2 linked regions of the Homo sapiens genome follow. The protein of the gene in region 2 interacts with the protein of the main gene of each other region in a biochemical or structural test. Each region holds a gene or a part of one and is shown on either strand. Other genes may lie near its edges. The genes, in order: CDSN and KLK7.

The links.
Region 1: of the proteins of KLK7 (region 2) and CDSN, one has a biochemical effect on the other in vitro, tested with the Homo sapiens proteins (one study listed by BioGRID).

What each region holds. Positions count from the first base shown.
Region 1 is NC_000006.12:31,114,356-31,117,504, forward strand, and holds the end of CDSN (corneodesmosin precursor), read right to left. Parts: coding exon 1,670-3,149; 3' UTR 732-1,669; downstream 1-731. UniProt on the Homo sapiens protein: Important for the epidermal barrier integrity.
Region 2 is NC_000019.10:50,980,670-50,988,382, forward strand, and holds the start of KLK7 (kallikrein-7 isoform 1 preproprotein), read right to left. Parts: upstream 3,182-7,713; intron 3,147-3,181; exon of another isoform or gene 3,103-3,146; intron 1,789-3,102; coding exon of another isoform or gene 1,731-1,788; coding exon 1,658-1,730; intron 1,246-1,657; coding exon 1,098-1,245; intron 1-1,097. UniProt on the Homo sapiens protein: May catalyze the degradation of intercellular cohesive structures in the cornified layer of the skin in the continuous shedding of cells from the skin surface. Specific for amino acid residues with aromatic side chains in the P1 position.

The sequences.
Region 1 (3,149 bases), on a different chromosome or scaffold from region 2:
GGGGGTGGGGCTCCTACAGGGACAAGCACAATCCACTCTGCCCTCCTTGGGATGCGGGAACTTCGTCCGCCTCAGCCTCTCCCTGCCTGTCTCAGGACTTAAGTCGCATGGACCCCACCACACACTCCACTTTCTCTCTCTTCTCCAGTGGAAGCGACTCCTCTTTCCCACTGGGGCACTCTGCCTTCTCAGCCCTCACCTGAGAGCCATGTTGCTCACACTCTCACTCTGGACCCCAGCAGAGCAGGGAGTGTGAAGATGGAGAGACCACCGGCAGCTCTGTTCTGCCACAGGCTGGGCCTCTTGATCTAGGCCAGTGAGTCACCCTGCTTGGCTGCACTCCCTGCCCTGCTCCCATCCTCTCAGTCCTTTACTCTCTCCACCCCCAGCTCCAGGAACAACGCCCAACTGGCCTCCTACTCAGCTGACAGGAATCTGGTTGGAGTTGTTGTGTCCCAGCCTTCCCAAGCTTCCAGGTGTCCCAGAAACCCAGGAAATCGAGACTCATGACTCCCAGAGAGGATGGCATCTAGAAGGTGAGGAATGCTAATGGTGGAAGAAAAGGAGTTTGGGTGGGGAGGGGAGGGGAGGGGAGGGAGAGGAAACACTGAGGGCCCTAAATAAGGGGAAGGGGGACCCCACGGTGAATGAGGAATGGGAAGAGAATGGATTTCCTGGAGCAATGAGAGAGGAGGGAAATGGCGGAAGGATCTGGGAGGCCAGGCAATCTCTGCTTTCAGTTCAACAAATATTTATTGTCTTCCTCCTCTGTGGGAGCAGCTGGAAGGTAGAAGAGAAACACAGCCCGCTTTTGAAGGAAAATGAGGAACACAGAGACCTCTAGAGGCGTAGGAAGAGCACCACCCAGACTCTCAGAGGAGACCCAGGACTCCAAGAAGGCAAAAAGTCTGCACCTAGTCCCCACAGTTTACTGAGCCATCTGTCCAGGATCCAGGGACAGCAGGGAGCCTGCTTCAACCTCTGAGGGTGCCCCAGTGTCTCCCTCACCCAGGGAATCATCTGAGCACTGAGGGAAGTGGCCACAGGAAGGGGCTGAGATAAGGGCCTTGAGAGGCAATGGGTGTGTTGGGGACGGTGATCTAGGAGGGCGTGGTGAGCTCTGTAATGGAGGGTGGGGTGGAATTGGGAGCGAGAGCCCAGTGGCATATTGGGTGGGTTGACTAGATGTCGAAGAAAGGTCAGTGAAAAGTGGCCACTGTTTCCAGATGATGGTTTGACTTTGCTTTATTTGGTAAAGGGGAAGAGGAAGGTATAACTTCTTCAGGCGTCAGAGGTGCTCTGAGAGCATTTCAGGGGTTTCCCAGTTGAGAAGCTGATGGGGGTGTTACTCAATGGACCATTTCCACACAGTAGAGGGAATTGTAAGGGGTGGTGATCTGGCTGAGGGGCACTGTGGTGGAATGGGAATTTAAACAGTAGGAGAGAATCAAGAGAGGAGCTTTGAATCTACCATTTTGAGAAGAGGAAGGAGGAAGGGGTGATAAGAGAGAGTCTGCAACCTTGGGGTAGTGGAGAAAGCAGAACCACTCTTTTGGGAAGGAGGGAAACTGAGCTAACCCTATGCCTGGGCACTGGACTTCTCCCATATGGGATATAGTGTATGTGCTTGTTTGTGCCCAAGGCATGCACACACACAACAGTTGACTTCTTATGGACTGTTGAGTAACTCTCCTTGGGGTAGGAAAACTTCAGGGTCAGCTAGCTGGGGCCCCAGAGGCTTCACTTGGGCTAGGATATCCCGGATGGAGCGGCAGGGGATCTTTCCAGCACTGCTGGAGCCACAGGGCTTGGCACCAGCGGAGGGATCAGGATGGGGAGAGCCATCGGGGCCCCCAGTCAGTGTCAAGGAGGAGACAGACATGCAAGGGTGACCAGAAGAGCTGGACTTGCTGCCACAAGGCTGAAGGATGATTTTGCCACTGGATTGGGAACTGGAGCTGCTGCTGAAGGAGCCGGTGCCTGGTGGGGAGCAGGGGCTCTGGGAAGCACTGCCGCAGGGATGGTAGGGTAAACCGGAGCTGCTGGAAATGCTAGAACTGCTGGGGACTCGAGAACTGGAGGGAGAGCAGGGTCCCTTGGAGCCCGTGGAGCCGCCTCCACAGAGCTGGACCCCACCAGTCCCCACTGGCTGGAATGCAATGGCCGAGGAAGCTGCCGACTGGCTGGGGATGATGGGGTTGCTGGAGAAGTATTTGCCCTCAGAGATGGGGGGCCCAGCTGCAAAGGAAGGGACCCCTGGAGAGCCTTTCACAGGGTTCTCTTTGGTGAAGTAGCCCACAGGGTAGATTTTACCCTTACTGTAGGTCATGCCTGGAACCAGATAACTGTCAGAGGAGCCACCCACCACCTCGTAGCCACCATAGGATTTGTCTACAGAGGTGATTGGGGGACAGGGCTTGCCTGGAAGGCCACCATTGCTACAGGGGGGACCTTGAACCACTCCAGGGGCACCAGAACCGTGCTGGTCCACCACCACCACCACAGGCCTCTGACCCCCTGACACAGAGTGGGAGCTGGGGATGTAGGGGCCGGAGTGCGAGACGATGGGCCCTCCACTGCAGGGAGAGTCGGGGATGTCCGAACTACAGGGACGCTGGTTGGAGCTGACGCTTTGGCCACTGCTGGATACCCCAAAGGTCTGGGAAGAGGAAGAGCTTTGTCCAGGCTGGGAAGGGTTTAGTATTCCGCGGTAAGAGTTGTCATTGGTTGGCAGAGCAGAGCCATTCCCTACTTGGAAGCTGCTGCTGCTGAACTGAAAGCTGCTGCTGCTGCTCGAATGAGAGCTGCTGCTTCCCGAGTGAGAGCCGCTGTTTCCCGAGTGAGAGCTGCTGCTCCCCAGCTGGGAGGAACCGGATGCACCTTGTAGACTAGAGCCAGATCCGGAGGAGTAGCTGACCTGGGAATACCCCGTTCCTGGCTTAAAAGATCCTGCAGAACCACCCTGGGCAATGCTGGATCCGCTGGAGCTACCACTGGAGCCACCACCAGAGCTTCTGGCACTGGAAATGGAGCTGCCAGAACTGCTGGAGCCACTGTAGCTACTGAAACCGCTGGAGTCACCCTTCCCAGTGAGGCAGGGGTCGTTAGGGGAGGTGATACGCGTGGGGTCCTTACAAGGGTCTGAGAAG
Region 2 (7,713 bases):
AGCCCCAGAGAGAGGGAGACAGAGACCCAGAGAGGGGGGGACAGAGACCCAGAGAGAGGAGGGGGGAGAGAGACACAGAGATAGGAGGGGGGACAGAGACACAGAGAGAGGAGGGGGGAGAGAGACACAGAGAGAGGAGAGGGGACAGAGACCCAGAGAGAGGGGAACAGAGACCCAGAGAGAGAGGGGGACAGAGATCCAGAGAGAGAGGGACAGAGACCCAGAGAGAGAGGGACAGAGACCCAGAGAGAGGGGAACAGAGACCAGAGAGAGAGGGGGACAGAGCCCCAGAGAGAGGAAGACAGAGAGCCAGGGAGAGAGGGGGACAGAGCCCCAGGGAGAGGGGGACAGAGATCCAGAGAGAGAGGAGGGGGAACAGAGACCAGAGAGAGAGGGGAACAGAGACCCAGAGAGAGAGGGACAGAGACCCACAGAGAGAGGAGGGGGAACAGAGACCAGAGAGAGAGGGTGACAGAGACCCAGAGAGAGAGGGTGACAGAGACCCAGAGAGAGAGGGACAGAGACCAGAGAGAGAGGAGGGGGAACAGAGACCAGAGAGAGAGGGGGACAGAGACCCAGAGAGAGAGGGACAGAGACCCAGAAAGAGAGGAGGGGGAACAGAGACCCGGAGAGAGAAGGGGACAGAGACACAGAGGGGAACAGAGATCCAGAGAGAAAGGCAGACAGAGACCCAGAGAGAGGGGGACAGAGCCCCAGGGAGAGGGGGTACAGAGGCCCAGGGAGAGGGGGACAGAGATCCAGAGAGAGAGGGGGACAGAGACCAGAGAGAGAGGGACAGAGACCCAGAGAGAGAGGAGGGGGAACAGAGACCTAGAGAGAATGGGGGACAGAGACACAGAGAGAGGGGAACAGAGATCCAGAGAGAGGGGGACAGAGACCCAGAGAGAGGGAGACAGAGAGCCAGGGAGAGAGGGGGACAGAGCCCCAGGGAGAGGGGGTACAGAGGCCCAGAGAGAGGAGGACAGAGACCCAGAGAGAGGAGAATAGAGCCGTAGGCACAGAAAGACTGCCCTTCCACCCCCATAGCGAGCTGGAGACGCTGGTGCACCTCCAGCAGAGACTTGGGCGGCACCTACTTCATCTTGCAGTGGGCGGCAGTGAGCACCCAGCGCTCATTGACCAGGACGCCTCCGCAGTGGAGCTGATTGCCACTGAGCAGGGCCACCTGCCATGGGTGGGAGCCTCTTGCACATGGGGCGCCATCAATAATCTTGTCACCCTGGGCTGGATGGAGACATGGAGGAGCACGTGGGTAGCTAGCATTAGGGGAAGGCTGAGGCTGCACCTCAGGGATTCCCAGAGTCAGAGATGGACAGAGACAGATGAAAATGTGTGGAGAAATACAGAGAAAGCAAGAGATAGGGATAGAGACAGACAGAAGGAGCCCACTCAGAAACCCAGGAGGCGCATCTCATCTGGGGAACCACAGAGAGACCCTGAGCACAGGAGGCAGGGCCTGGAGGGGACAGAGACCCCCTGAGTCAGCAGAAGCAGGAAGAGCGGGGGCTTCAGCCGACAGTCTGGTCCTCCCAGGATGGAAGCTGTTTGAGGAGGGAAGGGTTCTGACTCAGGGACTCCTTGGAGAGGGTCAGTGGGGGCCCTGAGGTGAGGTCAGACTTCCCAGTCCAGCTTTCACCTTCTTCTCCTGCAGTTTCCAAGGCTAAGGATAGCAGTAAGATCTGCAGGGGCAGGAGAAGGGATCTTGCCATGGTGCCCTGCTGAGCCGCTCAGGGGCTGCCAGGCGAGGAAGGGCCTCTCCTGCTGGAGCTGAGAAGGAGAAAGCATTCAGGCCCAGCCCCTCCCCACTCAGACCCAGGGGTCCAGGCCCCAGCCCCTCCCCCCACAGACCCAGGAGTCCAGGCCCCAGCCCCTCCTCCCTCAGACCCAGGGGTCCAGGCCCCAGCCCCTCCTCCCTCAGACCTAGGGGTCCAGAACCCCAGCCCCTCCTCCCTCAGACCCAGAAATTCCTTTCTCTGGCCTCTCCTTCCTTACACTCAGAAGTCCAGACCCCTAACCTCCTCCTCCCTCATACCCAAGAGTCCAGACCCTAGCACCTTCCTCCCTCAGACCCAGGAGTCCAGGCCCCCAGCCCCTCCTCCCTCAGACCTAGGAGTCCAGGCCCCCAGCTCCTCCTCCCTCAGACCTAGGAGTCCAGGTCCAAGTCCCTCCTCCCTCAGGCTCAGGAGTCCAGGCCCCAACCCCTCCTCCCTCAGACCCAGGAGTCCAGGCCCCCAGCCCCGCCTCCCTCAGACCTAGGAGTCCAGGCCCCCAGCTCCTCCTCCCTCAGACCTAGGAGTCCAGGTCCAAGTCCCTCCTCCCTCAGGCTCAGGAGTCCAGGCCCCAACCCCTCCTCCCTCAGACCCAGGAGTCCAGGCCCCAGCCCCTCCTCCCTCAGACCCAGGAGTCCAGGCCCCCAGCTCCTCCTCCCTCAGACCCAGGAGTCCAGGTCCCAGTCCCTCCTCCCTCAGACCTAGGAGTCCAGGTCTCAGTCCCTCCTCCCTCAGGCCCAGGAGTCCAGGCCCCAGCCCCTCCTCCCTCAGACCCAGGAGTCCAGGCCCCAGCCCCTCCTCCCTCAGACCCAGGAGTCCAGGCCCCAGCCCCTCCTCCCTCAGACCCAGGAGTCCAGGCCCCAGCCCCTCCTCCCTCAGACCCAGGAGTCCAGGCCCCAGCCCCTCCTCCCTCAGACCCAGGAGTCCAGGCCCCAGCTCCTCCTCCCTCAGACCTAGGAGTCCAGGTCCCAGCCCCTCCTCCCTCAGACCCAGGAGTCCAGGCCCCCAGCCCCTCCTCCCTCAGACCCAGGAGTCGAGACCCCCAGCCCCTCCTCCCTCAGACCCAGGAGTCCAGGCCCCCAGGCCCTCCTCCCTCAGACCCAGGAGTCCAGAACCCCAGCCCCTCCTCCCTCAGACCCAAAATTCCTGTTCTTCAGATCCCTAGAGACCCAGGAATCTAGGCTCCGATCTTGCCCTTCCCTGTGGAACCCAAACTTCTGACTCTGTAGTTCGTTTTTCCCTAAAAGGCCCCAAATTGCAGACTTCCAGGCCCTCACTGCTCAGGACCGGGAGTCTAGGCTGCAGCCCCTACCTCTCGAGAGCAGAGTCAGGCTTGGAGCCAGCATCACCCTCTCCCCTACAGGTGCACCCTTGATGAAGCCTCTTCTCACCTCGAGAGGATCTGATGTGATCCAAGTTCCGACTTGGGCTGGCACACAGCTGGGCTCCAAAATCTTCATCCCTCTGCTGGGCCGTCCTCTTATATCACCCCCCGCCCCATGCCCGGCCCCAGCGCCCTGGGGTGCAGGCGGAGCCGACTCTGGGACACCCCCGCCTGCATTTGCGGTTCTGGTTATCTGGAACCCTGACGCAGCGAGAGCAATTGGCACCACTGCACTCTCTCTCCACCCTCCCTCCGAAGGACGGGCGGTGCCCAGCTCCTGCGCCCCCGCACATTCTGGTCCCACAGTCCCTCCTGGCTGCTCTCGGGGGAGGGACCCGGTGCGCTGGGTCTGAGGGGCAGGAGCGGGATTCAAGCAGTCGCTGAGCTCAGAGAATAGGCTCTGGCTCGGGTCCTTCTCTGGGGCGGTTTTCTTTCTTTCTTCCCTCCTCCCTCCCTCCCTTCCTTTCTTTTTTTTGGATGGAGTCTCTCTCTATCGCCAGGCTGGAGTGCGGTGGCGCGATCTCGGCTCACTGCCAGCTCCGCCTCCCAGGTTCAAGTGATTCTCCTGCCTCAGCCTCCCGAGTACCTGGGATTACAGGCACGCACCACCACTCCCAGCTAATTTTTGTATTTTTAGTAGAGACCGGGTTTCACTATGTTGGCCAGAATGGTCTCGATCTCCTGACCTCATGATGTGCCCGCCTCGGCCCCGCAAAGTGCTGGGATTACAGGCGTGAGCCACTGCGCCCGGCTTCTGGGGCCATTTTCTTGCCCTCACCCCCTCTCAGGGGTGGCCTAGACCCTACATCCTAATTCTGGCCCGCCTGGGGGAACTTGTCCAAGCTGATCCCAGTCGTGCCTGTAATTACGCCTGAACCCATTCCCAACTCTAACAGAGAGGTGTAAGTTAAAAACAACGCTTTCCCTAACCCCACCCCACTAATATTTGCCATGTTTAGGATCTATGTTCTTATGGTCATTTTAATCATGTTATACATAGATTTCTTTGTATATTATGTATTTATAACAAAAATGTCTGTACTTAACATTATCTAATAGAACATTTTTGAGGGCTTCATTTATTAATTTATAAGCAAATATTTATTTTTCTTTTTTTAACTTTTCAGTTCGGGGGTACATGTGCAGGATGTGCAGGTTTGTTGCGTAGGTGAACGTGCGCCATGGGGGTTTGTTATACAGATTATTTAATCACCCAGGTATTAAGCCTAGTACCCATTAGTTATTTTTTTCTGATCCTCTCCTTCCTCCCACTCTCCACCCTCTCATAAGCCCCAGTGTGTGTACCCAAAGGAATATAAATCATTCTGTTTAAAGACACATGGACACGTACGTTCATTGTAGAACTATTGACAACAGCAAACACAGGGAATCAACCTAAATGTCCATCAGTGATAGACTGGATTAAGAAAATGTGGTACGTATACACAATTGAATACTACGTAGCCATAAAAAAGAACACGATCATGTCCTTTGTAGGGACGTGAATGGAGCTGGAGGCCATTACCCTTACAAACTAAAGCAGGAACAGAAAACCAGATATGGCATGTTCCTACTTACAAGTGGTAGCTAAATGATGAGACTGCATGGACACATAGAGGAGAGAAGAATCTTTCTTATTTTTTTTTTTTTTTGATGGACTCTGGCTCTGTCACCCAGGCTGGAGTGCAATGGCACGATCTCGGCTCACTGCAACCTCCACTCCCCCGTGTTCAAGTGATTCTCCTGCCTCAGAGTCCTGAGTAGCTGGATTACAGGCGTGCACCACCATGCCCAACTAATTTTTGTATTTTTAGTAGAGATGGGGTTTCACCATGTTGGTCAGGCTGCTCTCCAACTCCTGACCTCAGGTGATCCACCGGCCTCGGCCTCCCAAAGTACTGCGATTATAGGCCTGAGCCACCGCGCCCAGCCAAGGATTTTTGCTAAATGAGTAGATTATAGCTGCTCTTGCCACAGGGGAGGAAAATGGGTAACTATGTGAGATGATGGACATGTTCATTTGTTCAGCTATAGTAATCATTGTCCTATGTATATACATCGCATATGATCATATTGTACACTTTAAATATACACAATAACATTTATTTTTTAAAAAGAGGAAAACTTTTCCCTCTTTGTACATTTAGATTACTTTTCCTTCCTTTATAATGGTTGTGTAATATTCCATACTATACTTGTATCATGATGCATGTCATCTGCCTCAAATTGAAATACACTTGGATAGTTTTAATTATAATAATGCTGAGATGAACTTCTTTGTACATTCATCTTTGTTCATTGTAGTCATTCAAACAGCATCCATTGAGCATCTACTCTGTGCCAGAAACTATTCAGGCTCTTGGAGACACAGCAGTGATAAAACAGAGAAAAATTTCTGTCTTCATAGAGGTTTTTGTTTTGTACTGTCAGGTCAGCACAAAAATAAGCAAATAAAATGTAGAGTTTGTTAGGTGGTTGTAAGCGCTATAAGGGAAAATCCAAGCAAGGAAGAGGGTTGGGGAGTTACTGATTCCCTCTACCCTCGAGGATCCCTGAGGTTATAATATCAGGAAGGTTGGCTGCAAAGACCCCACGTGAAGGTGATATTTGAGCAAAGTCTTGAAGGAGATGGTGGAGGGATCCAGGTGGCTGCTTGAAGGTAGTGAGTTCCAGGCAAAGCGAGCAGGCAGGTGTGTTAGCCAAGGAGCATATCTGAAGTGCCTCAGCAGACAAATCACTGCGACCAATACAGAGTGACCAAAGGAGATGAGGGCAGGTGATGAGGCCAGAAATATAACAGGACTCTGATGACATGCGGTCTGAAAGGTCTTTGGCTTTTATTTTGAGTAAGACAGGAACCATTGTTGGACACACTTCTAAAGTTGGAATTGACCTCAACCTCTAAATTATATCCCCAAAATGGGATTTATTTCTCCACCCTGGACCTAAAACTTATCTCAATCCTGACCCCAACTCAATTCTTTTTTTTGCTTTGTTTTGTTTTGTTTTTGTTTTTGAGATGGAGTTTTGATCTTATTGCCCAGGCTGGAGTGCAGTGGTGCGATCTCAGCTCACTGCAATCTCCGCCTTCCAGGTTCAAGCAATTCTCCTGACTCAGCCTCCCGAGTAGCTGGGATTACAGGCATGTACCATCACACTTGGCTAATTTTTTTTTTTTTTTTTTTTAGTAGAGATGGGGTTTCTCCATGTAGGTCAGGCTGGTCCCTAACTCCCGACCTCAGGTGATCTGCCTTCCTCAGCCTCCCAAAGTGCTGGGATTACATGTGTGAGCCACCACGCCTGGCACCCCAACTCGATTCTACATTTGACCCATAATAGTAGACATTATTGTTGTGTCCCCAGGCATTCACTCCTTCTGCCTTTCTATCAGAGGCTCCATTTTGTTTGGATAATACTTTATCCTCATCAGGACTATAAGCCTCAATGAACCAAGCATTGAAGCCATATTTCGTTTGCTTAATTAGTTGGAAAATGGACATGTGCTGTTCTTCTGGCCAATGAGGAGGAGGGGAAGACCACTGAGGCACTTCTAGGAAAGACTTTCTCATTTTCAAAAAGAGGCACTGAAAGGGGACTTTTTTCTTCTGCTAGATGGTGTCTTTTCTGGATGCAAATTCTGGAACTGTGGCAGCACCCCAGGGACCACAGAGGGAAGTGACCAGAGGACTAAGTCAAAACACTGCAGGTAGCCCACCAGAGAGGTGAGGATCAGCTGGGTCTTTGATGAAGTCACTGAGCTGGTGAATTAACCAACGATGGAGCCTCTTCATGTCATGATTTTTCAGATTCCCCTTCTGGGTTAGAGTTGCTTGGTCCTTGTAGCCAAAATCATCTTTATAAGACCTCAATGTTCAATCAGAATATTGACTCAGATCCCAAATCTGATCCCAAGCCACAAATCCAAATCCGATTCTAACTTGATTCCATATCTTGAAGCCACATAAATCAACAAACTCAACCATGCCTCCAGTCTTAGCTCTCTTCCCAACCCTCATCCCCATATCCCATTTCAGCCCATATCCCATTTTGGCCATTGTTAATGTGAAGATGACCAATTTAATTTTTAGAATAGTCTTTTTTAAAAAAACAAATTAGTAATTTGGATCCTATAGCTGACTACCTCTCATCTAAATTTAATTTTTTCTTAGTTTTTCTTCTATACAGTGGATTTCTTATTTTTTAGGGAAAAGTTGTTGATTGTTTATGCAATAGTTTAACACCAATCCTTTATATATTTAACAAATATGGATTGGGTGGTAGCTATCTACCAATGAGGATACAATGGTGTGCAAACCTAGATAGTGTCTCTTCCCTCAAGGAGCTGATAGTGTCATGTAAAAGAAATACAGTCAATTCATAAACAAGTGTAAAATTACAACTACAAGGCATGCTCTGAAAGACAGGTGCAGGGTATTATGAAGGCACTTCCAGAGGGGTTAGACCCAGGAATTGACTATGAGCTGAGATTTGAAAGAATATTAAACTAGAAGAAATCTTCTAGGAACTAGAAGTAGACTA